4 linked regions of the Homo sapiens genome follow. The protein of the gene in region 4 interacts with the protein of the main gene of each other region in a pairwise test. Each region holds a gene or a part of one and is shown on either strand. Other genes may lie near its edges.

Evidence for each region.
Region 1: the proteins of AGTR1 (region 4) and CCDC25 interact in a two-hybrid assay, tested with the Homo sapiens proteins (one large-scale study listed by BioGRID and IntAct).
Region 2: the proteins of AGTR1 (region 4) and SERINC3 interact in a two-hybrid assay, tested with the Homo sapiens proteins (one large-scale study listed by BioGRID and IntAct).
Region 3: the proteins of AGTR1 (region 4) and SAE1 interact in a two-hybrid assay, tested with the Homo sapiens proteins (one large-scale study listed by BioGRID and IntAct).

The regions. Positions count from the first base shown.
Region 1 is NC_000008.11:27,745,141-27,748,640, forward strand, and holds part of CCDC25 (coiled-coil domain-containing protein 25), read right to left. Parts: intron 3,459-3,500; coding exon 3,355-3,458; intron 3,140-3,354; coding exon 2,937-3,139; intron 1-2,936.
Region 2 is NC_000020.11:44,519,271-44,523,412, reverse strand, and holds the start of SERINC3 (serine incorporator 3), read left to right. Parts: upstream 1-1,342; 5' UTR 1,343-1,461; coding exon 1,462-1,500; intron 1,501-4,142.
Region 3 is NC_000019.10:47,203,835-47,207,334, reverse strand, and holds part of SAE1 (SUMO-activating enzyme subunit 1), read right to left. Parts: intron 1-3,500. UniProt on the Homo sapiens protein: The heterodimer acts as an E1 ligase for SUMO1, SUMO2, SUMO3, and probably SUMO4. It mediates ATP-dependent activation of SUMO proteins followed by formation of a thioester bond between a SUMO protein and a conserved active site cysteine residue on UBA2/SAE2.
Region 4 is NC_000003.12:148,703,651-148,708,509, reverse strand, and holds part of AGTR1 (type-1 angiotensin II receptor), read right to left. Parts: intron 567-4,859; 5' UTR 483-566; intron 1-482. UniProt on the Homo sapiens protein: Receptor for angiotensin II, a vasoconstricting peptide, which acts as a key regulator of blood pressure and sodium retention by the kidney.

The DNA.
Region 1 (3,500 bases), on a different chromosome or scaffold from region 4:
TTGTACCACCCACGCCTGGCTAGTTATTTGATTTTTTGTAGAGACAGTCCTAATTTTGTTGCCCAGGCTGATCTCAAACTCCTGGGCTCAAGCAATCCTTCTGCCTCAGCCTCCCAAAGTGCTGGGATTACAGGCATGAATCACTTTGCCTGGCCGCATCTCAACTTTTAAATATCCCTCTCTCAGGTAGTCATAGTCCTTACCCTTTGTTTTGACTGCCTCAACCTCTCATCTGTTATTCACCCATCCTCTTTATGACGTTTCCCTGACTATTGCTTATTTCTTCTGGTTTCGACATCTACATGGGTTGACTTAATTTTGATGTAATAAATGTTTGGTACAGTAACACAAAAAGCCAAATAAAAGAATGCAAAATTAAAACAGGTAATAGACACAGATTTCTATATCTTGGGTGGAAGATTCAAAGACAGAAATTAAAGTGAATGCTAGCACTGCAAAATGTATAAAAACACATTACAAAACAAGTCAGAAGCTTAGAGCCTATTGCTGGAATTTCACAGATGCTGCAGAACACAGCAAACGGCAGCTCTGGATGTGCCAAGCAAAGACTTGCAATGTCACCGCGTTCCATTCCCGGCACTGCAGCCCTGTGCCACGTTCTTCTGTCTTCTGCAGCATGTGACAGAAAGTTGTCTGTGTGGCACACGGTTAACGGAAATAAACATAGCAATTGTTTTTGGTTTTCTGAGATCCATGGAGATTATTAAAAAATACAAATGACCAGTGACAACTTAGAAAGTGGGACTGATTAAACTTTTGAAGGAAAAATCTTATTCAATAAGATTGAGTTTTCCCTTCAGTTAATAGGAGTATTTTATATGTTGATGACACTATGGAAAAAAGCCCAGAAGATACGAAACTGTGTTTTGGTGGACAAATTTTGTTTAAATGCTTGTAATTTTTGAAACTCATAAAAATCATACTAATGTCCTTAATTTTAGTAGCATGCAGCTTAATTTGAATTATGACATCTATAAATTACTTGATTGATTTATATTGAATAAAAATTACTTTAAAATGGAATAAATTGAACAAAGGGAAGAAGAGTATAGTAAGTAATATGTGTAGGTTTGAGAATCAGACTGAGACTAACTAGCCAAATGAGCTTATAACAAGTTTCTTGATTGCTTCTCAGGCTCAGTTTCCTCTTCTATAAGATGCAGATAAAAATCTACTATGGCTATTGTTGGAATTAAATGACAGAATGCAGTAAAGCACTTTGCAATGCAGTGTTTGGCAGATGGAAAATGTTCAGAAGGGTTAGCTAGTCTTCCTTATTCAATGTTGTAAGTAAATTAGGTGATCTTATGTTCCTAATATATGTTCCATCATGTTCCTAAACAAAATTATGTTCGATCCGTAAAGGGCACTAAAAGGCATATTTTCAGTTTCCCCCCACTCCAAACTCAAAACAAAAAAGAATTAACTGCTCTAAATCCTGCATCACTCAGAATTTCACAAATTTTACCTCACTGATGGAGTTAATACCGTTTCTTTCACTTCAAACACAAAGCAGACTCAGAATTCTAGGCCATACCAAATACTTAAACATATATGTTAGTTGGCCTCATATTAGCAGATTGTAACTCAGGGTAACATTTCTGAAGCTCTCCATTTGAACACTGTATTTTAAGTGAAGCCTGTTTTAGCAGAACCCCAACCAGAAACACGTGCATGCGAATAATAAATAACAGTACGTGTTCATTATACCTACATTCTGACCCAACAATCTTTCTAAGAATCCAGGGCATTCCAAGGAAACTGGGTTAGGACATGCCTAAGCAACATGTTTCTGATTCTACACCATTTCCAAAGGCAATATATGTTATAAGTAACTCTTTTTTCTTTTTGGCATATGTATTGCAAATAAACAAACATGGAAAAATCTAGGAGTTCTGTGATGAGAATTCGCAGGATTAATTTCCTTTAATTAGAACAACTAGGGGCTCTGCGGGTACAGCACTGTATGGCAGAACATCCACATTCTAGTCTGTAGAACCTATAAATATGTTATCTTCTATGGCAAAGTAGACTTTGCAGATGTCATTAGTTAGGACCTTAAAATGGAGAGATTATTGTGAATTATCTGGATTAACTCAATCTAATCACACTGTTCCTTAAAAGCAGAAAAGGCAGTGGTCAGACAGGGGGCTGTGACCATGGAAAGCTTGGAGAAGGAGCCACAAGCCAAGAAATGGGGGTGCCTCTCAAAGCTGAAAGGGAAGATTCTCCCCTAGTGCCTCCAGACACTTTGATTTTAGCCCAGTGAGAATCTTGCTGGACTTCTAATCTACAGACAATAAATGTGTGTTGTTTTAAGCTACTACATTTGTGGCAATTTGTTTCAATGGCAATAGAAAACTAACATAATCATTATTCTCATGGCCTTCTTCACTAGAATTTCAGGAGCCAAATTGTATTTGAACTATTTAGCTGTTTAAAAATGTAGTGCTTTGAAGCAGACCTCACTACATTACTTTAAACTTTCAAAATGTAAAAAAGAGTTTTAAAAACAGCTTTGAGAGTTACTAGCATTGGTTTTTAGAGCCAACACAACTTTACTTAAATAGCACAGCTAGTCAATAGTAAATACCTCCCACAGCACCTTTTCCTTTCCAGAAGAACTTTACAAACCAAACCAAACTAGGGATAACCTATGAAGGTTTCTCTATGAATAAAATTAGTTATTTTATTTCATCCACTTTCATATCCTGCTGCCATAAACAAGCAATTCTTTTAACCAACACATTAATATAAATGCCTTTTTTTAAAAAACTGATTTAAGGTTGAGCTTAAGCTGAGCTTGTTACATGTCCCTCCTTCCACCAATATATCGTTCTTAATGGCTAATACATGATTAAAATCATCAGGGAATAATCTTTGAGGTCAGTCTCAATGCCACAGCTCCGACATACCTAAGTTCATCCATTTCCCTCTTCTTCTTCATTTCTTCTTTTTCTCTCTTTTTCATTTCCTGAATTTGGGCTTTTTTCTCATTCCTCTCTTCACGATCTCTGCATTCTTTCTCTGCTGCTAGGTCTGGGAACCGCTCGACTTTGGTCTTTTCTAATCGGTTCAGGATCTCATTTACTTTCTTCTCCACTGTCACAATTTTTACCTTTAAGGGAGATAGGAGAAAAGATATTGCATCTTTTTGTTTTTTTTCTCCCAGAAGAGGGATGAGGCTTTCCAGGGGTTTAGCAACCCAGTTTAATTCCCTTTAGAAAACATATATCATGCTCAGCCCTCAACAACAATGGTGTCAGACAGAAAAGATAGGATACTCCATTCAGTATCAGGGCTCCGCCTCCTTCAGTGGCACAAAACACTTACATCCTTCTGCCTGTGAAAGCCTATCTGCCCCACATCCATGTCAGCTGTTTTCTTCAGGTTAGACCACGGCGTATATACCACATTAACGTTGTTCATCTTGCAGCCTGCCAAGAGAGACTGTCTTCAACATGCAGGCAGGATGAGAC
Region 2 (4,142 bases), on a different chromosome or scaffold from region 4:
GAAGCAAGAATGTTAAGGACTACCTGGAAAGTTCAGTGGTCCTGAAGCAACTTGACTTGAGCTGGTATTTGTGTATGTGTGGTGAGGAGAGGGATCTGGGAAAAGAGAGGTAGGAATTATTAAATGTGAGTAGTTCTCTTTCTTCTTTCATCAGCCCTTTTCATGGCCTTGGGCAAACTTTGAGCCTCATTCCATTTCTGTAAAAGATGAATTTGGAATACATTTTCAAGGAATCCAGGAAATAACATCCCCAAATATGCCACACTGGTATGATGATTGCTTGGGGAACAGCACATGGAGAGAGGGGCTTTTCATGAATTTCCCTTATCAGACTAAAGGCTGACAATCCAGAAGGAATTCAATTATGAATCCCCTTCCAGAGAGTTTTATCTATCAGGGAAGATTAACACACCACAGGAGAAGATATTGAAGTGTGACACCTTGTTGTCCGGACATCATCATTGTTTGCCACATTCCACCTAAACTATTATATGTGTAAGTAAAAAATGTTTTCATTTTCTTCTTTAAGTGAACTCTCAAATTTGACATGTATTTTGAAAGGAATATTTACATCACTGCTTAAATGGGAAATCAGCATTGCTCGGAAGAAATGAAAAGGTTATTGCTAACACACACCTCAAAACAAAACAATATTTTAAAACTGCAGGCATGGTTGCCTGTTTGAGAGATCTGGAAAATGAAGGCTTTACTCTGTTAGAAAGGGAGATAAATACTAGAAAAATGTTAAATACCATACTGGCCTCAAACAACTAGCCTGTTGGTTTGAAATGGGACGTTCTCACTCTGCTGTTTAATATCGCTTAATGTCCTTCATGCACCCTTAGAGCCATTCATTTTTCCCAAATGGGGTGCATCCCACATTTTAGGATACGATTTCCATCGTTTCTAGGTTAATTTGGACTCATCCTTTAGTTCGCAGATTAAAAAATAAATCCTTCAGAGAAGCCTTCCAAGACTACTGCCCAGCTAAATTACTTTCCCCTTACAATAGGAGGCACTAAATACACCTTTATTGAAAGCCTATTCCCCCATACTACTTCATCGTATTCATTACATTGGGGCACGGTGCATTTATGTTGTCAGATCTCCTATTAACTAGAGAATAAATTCTGAGCGTACTGTGCCTCTCTGTACACTTCTGTAACTTCCAGATCTTTGCACAATGAATACAAATGATGTAAGGAATGACACCTTCACAGTTCCTGCAACCCCAGGATGGTTTAGCCCCACCTTCCCCCTCAGCCAATGACAGGCGCCCCCCTCTGCCGCTCCGGTCGCGGACGGTGGGCGGGGCCACGCCGTGACGCATCCGTGCGTCTGTGGAAGGCTGCGTTTCCGGCCTGAGAAACCGTCATGTTTCTGGGGAGTCACCTCAGCTGGCAGTTACCACCGTGTTAGAAAGCAGCCTCAGGACCGGCCACCTCCATCACTGGCGTCACCATGGGGGCTGTGCTGGGTGTCTTCTCCCTCGCCAGCTGGGTGAGTTCGGGGTCCCGAGTCCTCGCCGGACCTGCGGTTTGCGGGGAAAGGCCTCGAGACCAGAGCTGCACGGGCCTTGGCTCCAGAGGCTCTCGGGATGTCAGCAGGCCCTGGGCTACAGAGGGTCTCCGGGGCCCCAGACGCAAATCCGCGATACCCTCAGGTCCAGCTTAGGCGGCTCGCCCTCCGGGTTCCTCGGGGAACGGAAGAGGCTAGGCCGCCATTGTTTACAATTCGGATGGCTCCGCCCTGCGAGGCTTCCTGACTAGGTTCCTCTGGAGCTGGAGAGGGACCAAGGAATGACAGCTCCCAGCGAGGGGCTCCGGTTCCTCCCGAAGCACCTCTTAAGGTGCCATCATTTAGTTCTAGGTGGCTCAAGTAATATTTTTATCCCCTAGCACGGGATTTGCCAAAACTACAGAGTGTGTGGCAAAGCTGGGGTTTTAGCGGAGGCTTGTCTGCAGTTCAGGTGCAAGGGAAAGAAGCCCTTGTGGATTGTTATTCAAAATTGGAAACCAGGGCCTGAATATTTTGGGACTGCTGTAAGTCATTTATCCGAGGATAATCACCCCAGCATTCCTCTCTTCGAGAACGATTGTGACAGTGAAGTGAAGGTTTAATCACCTTGTAAACTGTAAACATTTTAAAGAGAAAATTATAGGGCCTATAAAAGAATATGCTGAGTTCCCTCATTTACCCACTTCAGAGGAGCGTGATTCCTTGATTCCTCATTCTCCAGCTGATTTAATTGACCAAGTGTGTAGAAAAAGCACACTCAGTTTCTCCTGCTGTACTCACAACACACTTTTGACACCTGATGTGTGGTGTGTGGGGATTTTCCCCCAAACATCAGGCAAACAGTCAGCTCTGCAGGGGATGCCAACTTGGTGCCCTACAAGTCAATTCCGAAGCTCTCTACTTGGAGATAGCATCAAATCACACAAGTGGAGGGCTCAGTCTCACAAGACTGTGCCCACTTTCTGTGCCAATGGCAAGCCTCAGGTTGTTTTACCTGTGCTTCTGACCGGCCACCTATAAATCAAAGTTCCCGTGACCTCCCTCCTTGGCTTTGATTAATTTGGTCACAAAACTCAAGGAAACATGTTTACTGGTTTATTATAAAAGTATTTTATTTTGTGTATTTATGTATTTTTAATTTTAGATTCAGAGGGTACATATGCAGTTTTGTTACATGGGTATATTGCCTTATCGTGAGGTTTGGGTTTCTAATGATTCCGTTGCCCAAACAGTGAACACAGTATCCAACAGGTAGTTTTTCAACCCCTATCCCCCCACCGTCCTTCCCCACTCTTGGACTCTCCAGTGTTTATTGTTGCCATCTTCGTGTCTGTGTTCCCAGTGTTTAGCTCCCACTTGTAAGCGAGAATATGCTGTATTTGGTTTTCTGTTTCTGTATTAATTCACTTGGGATAGTGGCCTCCAGCTGCATCTTTGTTGCTGCAAAGGACATGATTTTCTTCTTTTTTTATGGCTACTATTAATATATTTTTAAAGATACAGATGAAGTGATATGTAAGACAAGGTGTAGAGGGAACGGGTCTGGAGCTTCCATGCTCTGTCTGGGGCAGTGGCGCCATCTCGGCTCTCTTCAACCTCCAAGGGATTCTCATGTTTCAGCCTCCCGGAGTAGCTGGGATTATAGTGTATGCCACCACGCCCAGCTAATTTTTGTATTTTCAATAAAGACGGGATTTCGCCATGTTGGCCAGGCTGGTCTCGAACTCCTGGGGTGTGAGCCACCATGCCCAGCCAAAAGTTCTTCTGAACTTTGTCCTTCTGAGCTTTTATGCAGGCTTCATTATGTAGTCAGCATTCATTAAATCATTGGCTTTTGGTTACTGACCTAACCTTCAGCCCCTCCTTGGAGGGTCAGGGGTGAGACTGAAAAGTCCCAACCTCCTACTATGACCCTCACCCATCATGAAGCCACCTAGGGGCTGCCAGTCACCAGTCATCTCATTAGCATACAAAAAGACGCTGGTTATTCCAAGGATTTTAGAAATTGTATGCCAGGAAATGGGAACCAAACATACATATATTTGACAGTATTACACCAAGGATTCTGTTTCAGCTCTTTCTACTATTTTTCTTTTTTTTTTTTGGAGGGGGACAGAGTTTTGCTCTGTCACCCAGGCTGGAGTGCAGTGGCTCAGTCATAGCTCACTGCAGCCTTGAACTCCTGGATTCAAGTGATCCTCCCACCTCAGCCTTCCCAGTACAGGTGTGTGACACCATGCCTGGCTTCATTCCACTATTTCTTAGGAACAGAATGTATTTTAAGGTTGTTGGTCCTAAATCAAAAGAGTGTTCCATTTTTAAGGGCTTTCTTGAGAGCAGTGGTTTTCTAATTATTCTGACCTTGACCTAAAGAAAGATTGTACATAGTTGATCTGTGATCTGATGCACCCATATAGAGACAAAGTTTTATGAAATAATCGTTTACTGTACAATTTTTCTTTTATCTTCTATCACATTAGAAAATCCTGGTGAGTTGAAGGCCAGGCATGGTGGCTCACGCCAGGATGGTCTCAATCTCCTGACCTCGTGATCCGCCGGCCTCCCAGAGTGCTTGGATTACAGGTGTGAGCCACCGCGTCTTGCCCGGCTTTTACTCTTAAGTT
Region 3 (3,500 bases), on a different chromosome or scaffold from region 4:
ATCCATAAAACAGGGACAATCACATCTACCATATACAAATAGTGTTAGTCAGCCATTTTTCCAGGGAAATTTTATTTATTTGTAAATGTTTTTAATTTTTTGAGATAGGATCTTGTTCTGCTACCCAGGTGGGAGGCACATTCTCGGCTTACTGCAACCTCCGTCTCCCCAGCTCCAGATATCCTCCCATACCCTCTTGAGTAGCTGGGACTTTTGTAGAGATGAGGTCTCCTCATGTTGCCCAAGCTAGTCTTGAACTTCTAGGTTCAAGCAATCCTCCCAAAGTGCTGGAATTACAGGCATGAGCTACTGCACCCAGTCAAGGGAACATTTATTAAGCATCTACTCTATGCCAGGTATTCAGCTAGACATTAAGGATTCTGAGGTCTCTGTCCACATGGAGCTTGGATCAGAAAGAAGTTTGCTTCTCTGGGCAAATAGGCAAATAAAAAGCACCTGCCTGCTAGAGTTTTGGTGAGAATGAAATGTGACTAGGCTTGTAAAGTGCCGAGCACGTAGTAAATTCTTAGTAAGTAGGAGCTGCTATTAATAATAATAGGGCCAGGAGTCCTTTACCAATACTGGGGATGCCACCAACCTAGCCAGGTGGAAGGGTCCAACAGTACACAGGTGGAACTCTTAGACCCTCAAACCCAAGATACAGGAGATGGTATGTGTTTTACCATGAACCTGGGATGGCTGCTGCTTTCACTATCACCTCTCTTACCATAGACAGGGAGACCTGCCGTGGACGGTGGGGATGGAGAGAAAGGAAAACTGCTTTAAACCCAAGGAAGTAGACATGGATATAAAATAGGGTATCTAGAAGGACGTAAGAAAGGAAAGACGCAAAAGATGATTCCAAAGGAGCAGACTTGCGCTTGACCCATCTCCTAGTGTAAGCTTTCCATAGGCGCTCAGACAGTGCCTCAGGAGAGAAAGGTGAGTCTGAGGCCCTTGGACTGCAGGCCCCGCCTGCCAGCTGGCTGAAGGCTGACCAGTAATAAGTATGAAGGAGTACTGGGGATGAGAGCAGGGCATGGGGTGACATGGGGCAAAAGGTAAAGTGCTTCCCAAGCAAGATGGGGTAGGAGGAGATTCCAAACACACCCAGCAACGAAGAATGCAGAGTACTCTGGCTATCTGGGATAAACAGAAACAAGATGCTGGGCACCAGCTGTCTCCAGCAGGCAGGAAGGAGGGGGCTGTGTGAGGATGGGGATGTGAGAAACTACCACCAACAATGGGGTCAAGGCTACCTGCCCCAACCTCCAGTCTCCATCCCACATGAAAAATTTAGGGGGAGCCCCTCAATGGGATGTGCAGAAGTAAGGCTGACAATGCAAGGGCAGCGGCCCTGGGGTCCATGCAGTCTCTACATGATGGTGCCATTGAAGGCAACACCTGATGCATGACTGCCCCGTGGTGAAGAGGACAGGCTCAGAAACCAGACTGCCTGGGCCCACATCCTGGCACCACACTCACTAGCCTGGGCAAGCATCTTCTTTCCTGCACCTTAGTCTCTCTTTTATAAACCAGGGATCACAGGAGTTCCTACCTCATAGGGCCGGTGGGAGATGAAATGAGTATCCACGTAAAAAACACTGTCTTTGTGTGGCAGACAGTGGGCTTTCAGTAAGTCTTGTCTATTATTGGTGGTGTCGTCATTTTAGGCTACAAAAATATGTACATTCCCATTCCCCACTTAGAACATTCCCATTGCTGCACTCTTTCCTGCAGTTTGTCTACAGGGAGCCTCAGAATCCTGCTCGAACAGTCCTCTGGGTGGCCATTACCCTCTTCTCAGATTGGGCATATAAACTGTAATTTTCACATCACTCTGGGCTATGTATAAAATGTGAGCAAGGAAAGAGGTATGGCCATTGCACACTTTTCTTCCCCCTCCAAATATCTCCTCGGTGCCCATTACATAGAAGAAAGTTAGATTTGATCAAAGGAAGAATTTAGACCAGAGAGAAGGATCAGAAAAAATAGACAAAAAAAAAAAAAAAAAGTAGCCTTAGGAAAACGGTGTGACTAACAAATTGAGCCAAACGCCTCCAGAATGTACAGACCCCAAGACAAAGTGTTAAGGGCTGGCCTCCAAACTGTCCTCCCAAGCTCAAACTTGACATGTACATGGACATGGCCAATCATTTAACCAGGCACGACTCTGCTCCATAAGAAAGAAGGAAAAAGCCTCACCGGAGTCCACGAAGGCAGCCAAGAACCTGCAAAAGGCAAATTTAACATCTTCGGGCAAATAGCAAAGTCTGCAAAGAATGTACAATATATTTGGGGGTATGGTATAGTTTTAGCAACCCAAATGTTCCAGAAGACCCTCAAAAGGCTGTGCTAGTTACTGGTTATGTGACCCTGTATAAGATGCTTCCCTTCTGAGAGACACACTAACACCTACCTAACAGGGTCACGGGTCATCCTGTACAGAGCCTTGAGGGGCTCCTGGTGTGTTCATGGGGACACAGAAACTGATTTCTCTACAAATACCTACAGTGTGTGGTTAAAAAGACGGGGGCTTGGCCGGGTGCGGTGGCTCACACCTATAATCCCAGCACTTTGGGAGGCTGAGGTGGGAGGATCACAAGGTCAGGAGTTCGAGACCAGCCTGGCCAATATGGTGAACTACTAAAAATACAAAAATTAGCCTGGTGTGGTGGTGGGAACCTGTACTCTCAGCTGCTCGGGAGGCTGAGGCAGGAGAATCGCTTGAACCCAGGAGGCGGAGGTTGCAGTGAGTCAAGATCATGCCACTGCACTCCAGTCTGAGAGACAAAGTGAGATTCTGTCTCAAAAAAAAAAAAAAAGGGGGGGGGTGCGGCTGGGTACAGTGGCTCATGCCTGTAATCCCAGCACTTTGAGAGGCTGAGGTGGGCAGATCACGATGTCAGGAGATCCAGACCATCCTGGCTAACACAGTGAAACCCTGTCTCTACTAAAAATACAAAAAAATTAGCTGGGCGTGGTGGCAGGCGCCTGTAGTCCCAGCTACTTGGAAGGCTAAGGTAGGAGAATGGCGTGAACCCGGGAGGTGGAGCTTGCAGTGATCTGAGATCGTGCTACTGCACTCCAGCCTGGGGGACAGAGCGAGACTCCATCTCAAAAAAAAAAAAAAAAAAAAAAAAAAAAGGGAGGGCTTTGATGTCATGGTGATGAATAGAGATAAACTGTACAGAGGTTAAGAGCACAGGTTCTGGAGTCCCTTTCATGGGCCCAAGTGTCTTCCTCTTAAGTGGGGATCATGATAGTACTCACTTATAGAGCTATGAGAAGCAGAATCCCTGACCAATACAACAGGCACTGGATAACTAATACAGTTAGGGGAGAGCAGATCACACCTTCGAGGCACTATGGCCAACTGTGAGCTAAGCACAGAGCAGGCACTCCAAGGTCATTTGCTGAATGGCACCTGGATGGGCCAGAGAAAATGGGATGAGGTGGAAATGGGGAGGGCATGAAACAAAGATGAATGGGGTGAGAGA
Region 4 (4,859 bases):
CGAGACATTTGGGTTTTCTGAAGGTGAGAAGGTCAACTGTTAAGGTTTATGGTCTTAACACTTCCGAAAGTGAGCACTGGGGTATCAAAGAACCCAAATCGCCCAGGAAGTAGCTGACAAGAGAGTACAATCATTTCCCTTCTGGTCCTCTTAAGCCCTATACAGGAAGAACACTGCTCAAAGGAATCACCTGTGGCCATGTGGAGTCCTTGCCAAAGGACTTTCTCACATGATTCATTATCAGTACATGAATGGAAATAGCTTAGTAATTCTGATGTTATTTATGTTTAAAACCATATAAATACAAACGCTCTTAATCTGTATATTGGAGGGGATGTGGTAACACTGGGATTTCATTATTTTCTGCTTCCTCTACTTCTTTCACAAGATAATGGTGTGTGTGGGTTTTTGCGCTCTCCCCACTGCTGACACATTAAAGAAAACTGCTGACAGACCCACTGCTGTAGATGTAAGGCATTTACCTGGTGCCGACTTTCTGGGATGGCATCAGTGAGTTATTCAGATAAAAACCCAGCCATTTTAGATCAATTTGTCAAATATCAAACCTAAAAAGAAAAAAATGATTAACGCATTCCACTGAATATAGTCAGGTTTTTATTTTTTAATTTACAGAGTAAGCTTCCACACTGCATCTTAAGAGTGTTTTTGAAGGGAGTGAAACCATCTGGTTCACATCAAGAACATATTTTTCCTTATATAGAGCTAGACTGCATTAAGTGGTGGGCACAGGATCTCATCATCTTCCTGCCTGTGGTCAACATCTTCCCCAATGCCCTTGTAGATATACATTAGGCAAAGAGAAAAAGAACGTTTTAGGGTAAAATAGTGCAGTCTCATTCCTAGCCATTTCTTTCTATAGACATGTAAGAAATGTCTATAAATGTAAGAATATGAAAATAGATTGGATTTTTACTTGTGAATCTACAGCTAAACTTAAATGATTCTATTACTTAGTATAAAGCTTATGCACATTTTATTGTACCATAATTTAAAAAATACCTTTTTAAAAGATTACCTTTTCTGTTTTTCTTTTTCCCAGAAGTAATGCTAACGCGTCGTATAAATGTCAAGTTACAGAAGGATGTAAAATAAAAGTAAACATATCCTTACCCTCTATTACTTTTCTCTGCATTTACTTCCCAGAGGTACTACTAATAGTTACCTATGTCTCCTTCTAGGACTTGTATACACATGCATATAAATATGTATATTCATAAAAAATGCATACACATGCATATAAATATGTATATCTATAGTTTTTTCTTTTTGTACATCATAGTATTTTCTTCTTTGTTTCATTTATTTTACTTATGATGGCTAGCAGATTTCCTACATCAGCATATATAAATCTACCTCATTCATTTTGATGGCTGTACAATATTTCATTCATTGTACTCACACATAGTTTATTTAACCAGTCTGCTATTAATGAGCCTTAATCTTTTTTTTCAGTTTTCCTTTTGGCTGCTACAAAAATGTCCCAATAATAATATTTACATATATGCACTTTTGTACTTATATGAATGTATCTATATAATAAATTCTAACAGACTGTTGAACCAAATTGTTTGTATATGCTAAGTTTTTGATAGATATTCATAAAATGTCCTCCGTTAAGGTTATACCAATTTATAATACCAAGAATCTGGGTTTTATCAAATCATTTTTTCTTTATCTGATAAGTAAAAGGTATATCTTTGTTTTGACTTGCATTTCGTTAATTATGAATGAGGTTGAACTTCTTTTCATTTTCTTATTGTTTCCATAGTAATTCTTCTACGAGTTTTCTCAGCCATGGCTTTTGCTCATGTTTCAATTAGGTTGTTTATTGTTTCTCACATTAAAGAGCTCATGTTATGTTAAGGAAACTTAAATTTTACATGTAATGGCTGGCAAATAGCTTTCCCAGGTTTCTTGTTTAGATGATAACTTTGTTTATGGTACTTTTTACTGTATAAGCATTTATTTTTATGTAGTCAAATTCATCAGTATTTTTAATTATATATAGGAGGATTTTTTAAATAAGAAATTTATTTAAAGTTGAAGAGTTATTCAAGAAGATTGTATATAGGTTAATTTTTAAACCAACTTTAGCATACCAAGTTTAGCATTTAGGCATACCAACTTTAGCACTGTTATACAGAATAATGTTAGCATTGGAAGGATCTATTAACAAAAGAAAGTTCCCATAAAATGATTTCTTCTATAAAATATCATGACCGTGTGAATTCTGTGGACTCTTTGTGAGACACTAGTGTACCACAGGAAAAAAAAATGACAGAAAGGGTCAGATTTATAGTACCATTCTCCAGAGAGTTAATAGTAGTTGTCTAGTACCTAAAATCTAGAGTGAATTATAAATAAAGTAATAGAAATTCCAAGACAAATAGAAAGTAAAAAATATAAAATCAATAGAGATCCATTATAGAAAATTTTGTAGGTACATACAAAAGAAAGAAAGAAAAAAAATCATCCTCAAAAGCTCTTAAGATTTGTTGTATATTGTTCCTAATTTTTCTTATTGGCTCCACAGATATGCATGCATTTAAAAAACATGTAAGTGATTTTACTAACAAATCAATCCTAACATAATTAAATGAATTTCATTAAGATGCCAATAACCCAAGACCTTAATGGCACCTTGACAAGCATCTACCAGGTATACACATACATGGGATCACACTTACGATTCATATGTTATACAGTGATTTTTTCACTTACTACTATCTTTACTTGCCACTAAATATTTTAAAATATATAAATTATATATTACATTTTATATTTATACAAAATATATAACAACTGTAATGTTCTATCATATGGCTTAAGTTAATGGAAATTAAAAGGAATAGGAATAACTGTGTGTTCTCTCAAAAATCCACTCTGGTAACTCAGTAGATAATAGACCAGGACATACTCAAGAAATCATTACCCAAGAATCACATCTTTTTCATTCATGATAAAGTGGCAGCAATTAACTGTGTAACTGAGGGCTGGGAGACATCATGATAAAATGTGTTTTATATGAAGTGACATCATTTGAATGGGAGAGTTAGATTATTAAAGCTGGGTTAATGGAAAATTCTCATTCTAAGGGCAGGAGCATTTGAATTGATGGCAAGAAGAATTTGAGTCAAAAAGTAAAGTATATGTGTTGATGAAATTGTAAGTGTGAAGGAAAATATATGTGCTGATAAAGTTGTTAAGTATATGAAATTTACTAGAAAAAAATGCTATGCTACGAGAATTTTTCCAACTGTTAAAAAGAAAAAAATGCTATGCTATGAGATTTTTTCCAACTGTTAAAAAGAAAACCTTGTGCAGATTGCATTCAGCCACAGCCACAAATATTGGGGCTTAGTGAAACCAGGGGACTCTTAGGGGCTATAGAGGGTGATCACTGGTACTTTATTTTTTATTAGTACTAAGAAACTCTGCCTGCTATGTGTAAGATATCTTTTGGGTATTTCTCCTTCTTTCAAACTTCCACTACTTGTCATGATGGCAGCCCTGGATTGATTTTGCCCTAACCCATAACTTACAAATTAGATGTTGTAATGTCAGTGCTACCTGAATATCTACAGTTCTAGATTCAAGGAGCTGGTGAAATTTTATCTCCTACAAATTTTCTCAATACCATTGAAAAAGTGGCTGCTCAGTCCTGTTGGCACAGGTTTCCCCTCAAACATGATCCCAGGGAACCCATACACACCTGTCTTTTGACCAACATCAATAAGCCCCTGTCAAAACAGGAGATATTCGGACAGATCCAACTGATGGCTGTCAGAGAATCTACCTGCACTGGGTGAAACAGCTCAGGGACTGAATCATTTGGGGAGTCACTGGCTTGAGCATTGACTGGTTAGTAACTATATTTTACTACATTTTTGTAAACCATGCTTGTAGTAAATAAGCATTTATATTAAAAGCTGAAAAAGTAATATGTAATTTGAGTTGGAATGCTGAACAGTCTATGTGTATGTAGAAAACAGAAAATAACTTGTCCAATCCAAGGGAGAATTTACTTTATAGCATGAGAGCACCAAAAAGTAAACAGAAAATTTTGGATTTTTATGGGAAAAAATAGAGATATCAAAAGTTGTTATTATTATTATTATTATTCGAGACAGGGTCTTTCTCTGTTGCTCAGGCTGGAGTGCAGTGGTGTGATCATGGCTCACTGCAGCCTTCACCTCCCAGACTCAAGCAATCCTCCCAACTCAGTCTCCTGAGTAGTTGGGACTACAGGTCCCAACTACTACATGGTGTGCGCCACCATGCTCTGGCAATTTTTTATTTTTTGTAGAGATGGGGGTCTCAGTTTGTTGCCTCAGCTGGTCTCAAACTCCTGGCCTCAAGTGATCCTCCCAAAGTGCTGGGATTACAGGTCTGAGCCACCATACCTGGGCTCCAAAGTTAATTTTTAAAAGTATGTCATCTACTATTTTTTTAAAAAGCTTTATTGAAGTATAATTGATATACAAAAAGCATGCATATAAAAATATATTTTAGTGGATTTGGACAGGCTGTCATAGTTTTGGTATTTTTTCAAACAGTTAAAGAAGGAATTTCTAGAATTTCCCATTATTGCACTTAAAGGTAAGGTGACAGGAAAACATTAGATCAAAATGGAATAGATCTTGTTTGCTTTTTTTAAAAAAAATTTATGAGGGAAACAGATTTTGATCTCAAATTAAAACTTTAAATAAATTTTCAAATAATTAGTTGGCCTTAAAAAGTAGGTAGCCCAGTATAGAGCAGACACTGTAGGTAACAGCTAAGAGAACAGGCAATGAAATTAGAATTCTTATGTTTACATCTCGACTGTATCAGTTACA